Homo sapiens: one gene and its partner. Each later gene encodes a partner of the first gene's protein in a complex. Each region holds a gene or a part of one and is shown in the gene's direction. Other genes may lie near its edges.

Region 1 (3,745 bases):
CAGACAGGGAAAACTGGGGAGGAGATTTACGGGGAAAATGAGGACTTCTGCTTTGGCTAGGTCAAATTTGAGATGCCTGATAGGCTACCAACTGCAGTTGTCAAGTAAGCAGTTGGATATAAATTTGGGGTTCCCAGACAGGTCAGAGTGGAAGACACAGATATTTGGGCAGCTTGGACCACTCTGAGTCCTTATTATGATACCTGACCTGGTATGGAGTAGAAGAGAGGAACCAGCCAATCTAATTTTTGGCACATGGATAAAAGTCGATACCTTTCAGTCCATATTGGAATGGAGATAACGATTTATACTCCCTAGAAAAGACACTTAAACTGGATATGGAATTACTTCCGTTATCACAGTCTATCACTGTGGCCTCCTGTGTTATTACCAGATACCTTATACACAGCTAGGGTGTCCCATACAACACTGCTTCTTGCTTGGCACACAGTCGCATAGTATTCAATCCTGTGTTAAATGGCTTAGATAATAAGTCACCTGTAGGGATTATAGCAAGCAGGGACCATCATTTTCACATAGAATTTCCCAGGACTGGAAGGGACTTTTAAAGACCCAGAAATCTTTCTGGGCAGTGCCTCCAAAGTGTGGCCCCTGAGGTGTTCCTGCTGCTCTGGTGACCGGGGGTAGTTGACCCTATTTCAATGTCAATCAGAACAATATACATTCCTTTATAAACTTGTTTTTTTTTTGAGAGAGAGTCTCACTCTGTCACCTAGGATGGAGTGCAGTGGTGCAATCTCAGCTCACTGCAACCTCCGCCTCCCTCCTGTGTTCAAGCGATTCTCCTGCCTCAGCCTCCTACCGAGTAGTTGGAATTACAGGTGTGTGTCACCATGCCCAGCTAATTTTTGTATTATTTAGTAGAGACAGGTTTTTGCCATGTTGGTCAGGCTGGTCTCGAACTCCTGACCTCAAGAGCCTCCTGGGCCTCTAAAAGTGCTGGAATTACAGGTTTGAGCCACCTCGCCCTGCCTATAGTGAACATTTACATAATATTTTGTTTGACTAGGTTTCTGCCATTAAGAAGATGCAAAACCCTGAGGGAGTGTACCTCTTCACTTTGCATATGGGAAAACTGAGGCTCAGAGAAGTGAAATGACTGAGACCTCCAGGTGCCACCTCCCTTTCAGCTGCTCCTGCCCTGCTCCAAGCAAGGATGTGCCAAGTCAAGAGAAGACAGAGGACAATTAATGTTATCTGAGGATCTCGGAGCCTCATCCCTGAGCTATGATGGTCTTTCCCTCCTTAGTTGGGAGCCCCATCACGTTCCTCCGAAGCTCTAGTTGTGTGATAAGGAGGGTGGAATCTGAGACAGAGAACGATGGCCCTCCAAGGAGGGAGTTCGGGGTGAGGAAAACAGCAAAACCATGTGCTAGACAAGATCTTCAACTGCAGGGCTCTGGAGGCAACTGGGAAGTTTTGAAAGTGCAGATTGAAGCTCAGGGCCGCTGTGGGTGGCGCAGGAACTGCAGAAGACAAGATAGGATTAGGGAGGGCCAGCAGGTTGCCAGAGGCCCTTTTCCACCTGCTGGGCTTAGAGGGGCGGGACTCTGCCCGCTCCCTCACTTGGTTGGGTTTAAATGACCACTCCCCGCCCTAGCTGTGCCTTTGAGTGTGTGGCAAGGGATTGCAGACGGGAGACTGCTTGTCAATTCAGGGAAGTCAGCCTCTTTCTGCCACTTAATTCGCCCATCAGTAGAGATCCGACTTTCCCACGGTTCACTGTCACCCCCATTGCACAGGTGGGGAATCCAAGGCACAGAGGCGTCTGGGCCAGAGTCCCGGGACTATCCACTCATTCCGGGGTTGTAGGGCAGCATGTGTCAGGAGCTTGGGCTCGAGCGTGCGGGGCACTAATTGCGAGTGCAGTGGCCACAGGCTCCCGGGCAAAGTGGTCAGGAGCCCATTCCCGCCACCTCCGTCCGCGCGCCCCGCCCTGTCCTCCAGCAAGTTGGTGCACGCGCGTCCTCCCACAGGGCGCGGGATGGGGGCGGGGCCTCCGTGTTGTTGTTTCTCTGGGGCCCCGCCCCTCAGGGGGGCGCGGACCACGCGGCCGGAGGGCCCGCCTCCCCTCCCCCTCCCCGCCCAGCCCGCCCGCCTCTTTGTATCCAACATCCGGGTTTCCCCGCTGGCTCGGCTCCGTGGCCGCCGCTCAGGAGCCATTTTGGACTCGGTTCAGCTCCCCTCCCCCCCACCCCTCCCCCCGTTCATGGCCCCTCCGGACTCGGCCCCTGCGCCCGGGGCCCGGGCCCAGCCCCGCCGCGCTATGCCTGAGTCGGGCGCGCCCCGGCCCGTGCCCCGCCGCCGCCCCCCGGCCCCCGCGTCGCCCCGGAGCCCGGGCCGCAGCCTGCGCCGCCCGCAGCGGCCCTGAGCCCGGCCCCGCCGACCGGCCCTTGGAGCCCGAACGCTGCTCGGGGACGAAGGCGCAGGAAGCGCGCAGGGAACGAGACCGAAGGAAGGAGCGGGAAGGAGAGCGCAGCCGCCGCCTGGCCCTGCGCGCCCCGGGAGCGCCGTGCGGCCCTGCCCGCGGGCTCCGGGTGTGCGCGGGGCGGCGCCGCGGAACATGACGGCGCCCTGGGTGGCCCTCGCCCTCCTCTGGGGATCGCTGTGCGCCGGTAAGAACTGGGCGCGGCGCGGGGACGCCGAGAGGGCGCGCGGGGCTGGCCTCTGGCGCCGCGCGGTGTTTACCAACAAAGGGCGGGCCCGGGGCCTCGTCGCCGCACCACCTGTATTCAGCCCTCACCTCCGGGGGCGTGGGCTGGGGGCGCGGTGGGCGCCCGGCTCGCCGAACTTGGGGGCACGATCTTGTCTGTGCAGTCATCTGCGGGATTCTGGTTCCTAGAGGCGCCCCTGCGATGGGGGCCGGGACGCGGAGCCTCAGGGTCGGAGTTCGGGCTACGCGGGCGCGTGGAACCCAGGGAAAGAGTGAGGAAAACCTGAGCGTGGGGAAGGCGGCCAAGAGGGGTGGGCAGATCTCATTGGGGGTGGCAGGATTGTAGGTGCAGCAGCAGCAGCAGCATGCGGGGAGGGTTGCATGTCCCTCAGAGTCACTAAGTGTAGCGAAGCGAAGGGGGCGGCTTCACGCAGCCCAAAGTCCCCTGCATCTCTTGCCACCAGTCTGCGTCGCGTTACCGGCCCGGCGGGCTGTTGGTGCTGGCTCCCACCTGCTCCCTCTTTCCCTGCCGTTGGCCCCGGGATGCGGAGTGTGGTCGCTTCGCGGGACCGCTTTGTTTGGGCACTTGGGAGGGGAGGGGGTGGGTAAGATGGAAAACCCAACAGGTCCCTCTTCCTTCGGGCCTCCAGGAGGCACGTGGCGGGGTGGGTGACCAGCGCTCAGCTCGCCCGCGGCTGCGGGCGTGTGGCTGGAGGTGTTCGGCCAGCGCATGTGTGTTTGGGGGTATGTGGGCGCGGGCGTAAACAAGCGGAGTTCCGCCTGGAAAGCTTGTTTCTCCTACGGTCCAAGCACCGATTTCCCTCTCTCAGTGGTGCCGGGGTGCGCCTAACCCCGGCGGGCGCGCCGGGACGTCCCCTGGCCAGTCCTGGGAAACGTGGGGAGCTGGGCATTGAAGCTCTGGCGAGAAGGTCGGGGCGGCTGGTACCCGGCCGCCGGGTCCTGCGCGTCTTTGTTCCCAGCCCCCATTACACATGCAGCGCGGGTCCCCCGCCGCCCTCGGTGGCAGCCGCCTGGAGTCTGGGAAACCCTCGAGGGGCGGGGCCGGGCGTG
Region 2 (3,745 bases), on another chromosome or scaffold:
ATGTCACATTTAAAAAATAACGTCAGGTAGCAGCCCCTTGCTCCTCCCTGAGCACATCCAGGCCACTAGGCTATCCCTCTGCTCAGCCTCTCGTGTGTGAAAAGCTCCTGGCCAGACCATGTTGCAGGCATCTGCCCTGTCCTCACTCCTCCCGGACCACACCTCACTCCGCATTTGCAGCTCCATTTCTTGGGCATGGCACCCATTTATTCATCTTTTCTCTGCCCCATGGAATTCTTGCACTGAGCTGGATCAAAGCCCAGCACACTTCCAGTCCTCTTCCCAAGCAGCATTTCTGAAGCAGCACGCTTCCCGTCTTCCCCTGGCCCATGTCATCAAAGGACAGAGATAGCAAGTTCTATTCAGGCCCAGCCATTCAGGGGCTCCTGATTTCACCCATCCCCCTCTGCAATCTCTGACCGCAGCATGCTGTGGCCCCTCCTGCACCCCCCTAAACCTGCTCAGCTCTCTGCAGCCTCTCCCGGACAGCCTCACCAGCATAGAATACCTTCCCCAGAGTAAACCACCAGGCACAGCATACCCCAGAGTGTTTCTAACCATGATCCTTCTTTGCTTTGCTCAAAGCCACACGTGATGGAAATGGACAGAGTCTAAGTGTGGACATACTGCTCTTAACGCAGTCCCTGGGGCCCTTTCCTGGGCCACAGCTTATCAGCCTCCAAAGGCCAGGGGATCATCTTCTTGGCATGTACCACTCTCAGAACAACCCACCTACTCCCCTGTCTACCAGATTGCGTGGTTCTCCCTGCTGATGAGTGTGGGCCAGGTGGCTGCCAGGTTGGTGTGAGCTAAGACCACCCCACAACAGACCAGTGACACAGCTGGGATGCAGGGATGTGGGGAGCTCCCCACAGGCTGCAGTGTGTTGTGGAGCTCCGACAGAGCAGGCTGGGGGAACCCAGGGCTTCCTCCCCCAGCTCCAGCTCAATCAGGCCTGGGCTGGAGAGGGGGCATCCAGAATGCAGCCACCAAGCCAGCCTGGGGCACAGCATCCTCTTAACCCCTATAACTATCTTCTGAATGGGAGGCTCCAAGAGCTGCAGTGACTTGTTCCAGGTGACATTTGCAGGGAATCGGTGAGGGAGTTGAGATCCCAGCCTGTGTCTAGTTTGACTCATCACCGCACTAAATTGCACGGGAGCCATATTCACTCGTGATCTCTAATGCTCAGCAGTGCATCCCACCAACAGAGCAGGGAGGCTTGCTGGCAGGTTCCGATTCTGCAAGGAGCAGGCCTCTTCTGAGCCCTGATGTGGTCCCCACACTCTCCCCATCTCCCCAGCCCCCACGGTTCACTGTGATCTTGTGCTGTCCTTTCTATATTTGGAGGACTACTTGGTCTTGTTTCCTGGATTCTTCACTCCTGTGGCCCAGGAGATGGAGCATATGTCACCCTGCCTGGAGATTCTTCTGAAGAGCCCTGGCAAGGAAATGAGAAAGTATCCTAATTAGGGGGCAATAACCCCCTGGAGAAGCACAGATTCTTTACAGTAGGCCGTGTCCTTCCCGCATGCCCTGTGTGTTTGTCAGATGTTTATAGAGCCTTCATTAACGGAAGGCTCCCTCAGATAAGACGTCGGAGCGCGGCATCGAGGACCAGATAAGCACAAGTGGAGGACAATCCAGCCCGGCAGCGGGTGAGAGTGGGTGCTGGCCAGGACGGTTCCTTCAGAGCAAACAGCAGGGAGATGCCGGCCCGCTCCTTCCCAGCTCCTCCCCGTGCCCGCTAACACAGCACGGCCGCCTGCAGTCTCCTCTCTGGGTGATTGCGCGGGCCTAAGATGTGTCCTGGGGCACTGTGGGTGGCCCTGCCCCTGCTGTCCCTGCTGGCTGGCTCCCTACAGGGGAAGCCACTGCAGAGCTGGGGACGAGGGTCTGCTGGGGGAAACGCCCACAGCCCACTGGGGGTGCCTGGAGGTGGGCTGCCTGAGCACACCTTCAACCTGAAGATGTTTCTGGAGAACGTGAAGGTGGATTTCCTGCGCAGCCTTAACCTGAGTGGGGTCCCTTCGCAGGACAAAACCAGGGTGGAGCCGCCGCAGTACATGATTGACCTGTACAACAGGTACACGTCCGATAAGTCGACTACGCCAGCGTCCAACATTGTGCGGAGCTTCAGCATGGAAGGTAGGGTCTCCGCTTGCACCATGCGCGCTGGGGTGGGACTCACAGGTCCACAGCTGCTTTCCCCAGGGTGGAGGCCACTGGCCATAGGAGGCTCTTCAAGCTTCCATTTAAATTAGTTACAATGAAATAAAATTAAAACTTATTTCTTTAGCCTCACCAGCTTCCTTTCAAATGCGTGGCTAATGGCTTCCCTATCAGGCAGTGCAGACTGAAGAACATTTCCATGGTTACTGAGAGTTCTACTCAGCACTTCTGTTGTGAAGGATTCACCTTCCCCAAGCTGTGTGCCACATTTCACACAGCAGGTGCACAGGGATGCCAGCTCTCTTTTTTCCACCCCTTCTCTTTACTCTCCTCTTCTTTGCATCACTCCCCTCTGATTCACTTCTCTTCCTTTCCCCCTTCCCTTCCTGTCCCCTTCCTACTTCAGAACAGAACAGGCAACCTATTTCACCTCCAACTAACTGGGATATTTTTAAATTTTCAAAGCACATCTATTCCTTTCTTATGAAACGGTTTTAAAAATCAGATAAAATTCTTGGACAGAGAAGTGTTGGCAGAGAACCTAATTGTTTTTAAATAGAAATATATCTGATTTAGAAGGACTAGAAGATAACAAACACGGACCTAGGACCTATGTCCTAACTCAGACAAGCTCACATGATGCAGGGGAAATAAGTTTCTGAAGAGCAAAACTGTTCAGTCAAAGCTTGCAGCCACCAAGGGTACCCACCCATGTCACCTAGGAAGTGTTAAGCCTGCACACCTAGGAAGTGTTAAACCTGTCTGCCTGCAGAGCTGGCTTTTCCTGCTGCTGCTGTCTCCCTCTGAATGTCCAGGAGCACAGAGCCTCTCCCTTCCTGGGTCTGAGACTTGCAAATGGCTAAGGGGCCTGGCTCCATACCACGCCCAGGCCAGACCTAACTGGTCTGCAGAGGCAGGACTGGCACTTCAAAACCTGCCAGCTAGGTTTCCCTATAGCACAGGGTCTCCACACATGTGGGTATATAGCAAGTGCTGAAAAAATGCAACCTCTTTTCCCTGTCTGTGAACCAGCCATTGTATAGCAGGAGCGTGCTAATGACAAAGTGTCAGCCCAGGATAAATGGGATATCGAGATAACTATGTGGCTAAAAGCCAAGCCCCATTTTTGCTTGACATGACAAAGCAATTGAAGCTAATAGATTTTGTTCCTGAAACACTAAAACCAATTATCCACTTTTGCTTTGTTTGGAAATTACAATTTCAAACGATTTATACACTGTTTAGAGGCTGAGATTTTTGATATTGTCTTAATATTGGGGTTTCACTGTCCCCACCCAGGATCTCTCCTTTAAATTCATACACTCAGGATCTTCACTCAGGATCTGACAGTGAGTTTTTCTGTTTTCTTTATGTACTCAATAGCTGTGTGCTAGTAAGTCCCAGAATACTTAACTAGCTGTATGCATTTTGGCAATTAACTGCCTTGAATCCCAGTCTCCACATCTGCAAATGTGGAATAATAATTAGATCCTCCCAGGGTAAGTGAGAGGATTAAGGTGAAATGTATTCTGCAAAGCTCCCAGTGTAATGCCTGGCACATAGTAGATGCTCG

Evidence for each region.
Region 2: the proteins of ACVR2B (region 1) and GDF2 are in contact, whole or in part, in a crystal structure (PDB 4FAO), measured with the Homo sapiens proteins. Residues at the interface, in NP_001097.2 of Homo sapiens: Asn35, Glu39, Cys49, Glu50, Glu52, Lys55, Leu57, Tyr60, Ser62, Arg64, Val73, Lys74, Cys77, Trp78, Leu79, Asp81, Phe82, Asn83, Glu94, Gln98, Val99, Phe101; in NP_057288.1 of Homo sapiens: Arg333, Ile346, Ala347, Pro348, Lys349, Glu350, Tyr351, Glu352, Lys397, Ser399, Pro400, Ile401, Ser402, Val403, Leu404, Lys406, Gly410, Val411, Pro412, Thr413, Leu414, Tyr416, His417.

What each region holds. Positions count from the first base shown.
Region 1 is NC_000003.12:38,451,739-38,455,483, forward strand, and holds the start of ACVR2B (activin receptor type-2B precursor), read left to right. Parts: upstream 1-2,151; 5' UTR 2,152-2,584; coding exon 2,585-2,636; intron 2,637-2,648; exon of another isoform or gene 2,649-2,876; coding exon of another isoform or gene 2,877-2,946; exon of another isoform or gene 2,947-3,082; intron 3,083-3,745. UniProt on the Homo sapiens protein: Transmembrane serine/threonine kinase activin type-2 receptor forming an activin receptor complex with activin type-1 serine/threonine kinase receptors (ACVR1, ACVR1B or ACVR1c).
Region 2 is NC_000010.11:47,320,867-47,324,611, forward strand, and holds the start of GDF2 (growth/differentiation factor 2 preproprotein), read left to right. Parts: upstream 1-1,587; 5' UTR 1,588-1,802; coding exon 1,803-2,148; intron 2,149-3,745. UniProt on the Homo sapiens protein: Potent circulating inhibitor of angiogenesis. Signals through the type I activin receptor ACVRL1 but not other Alks. Signaling through SMAD1 in endothelial cells requires TGF-beta coreceptor endoglin/ENG.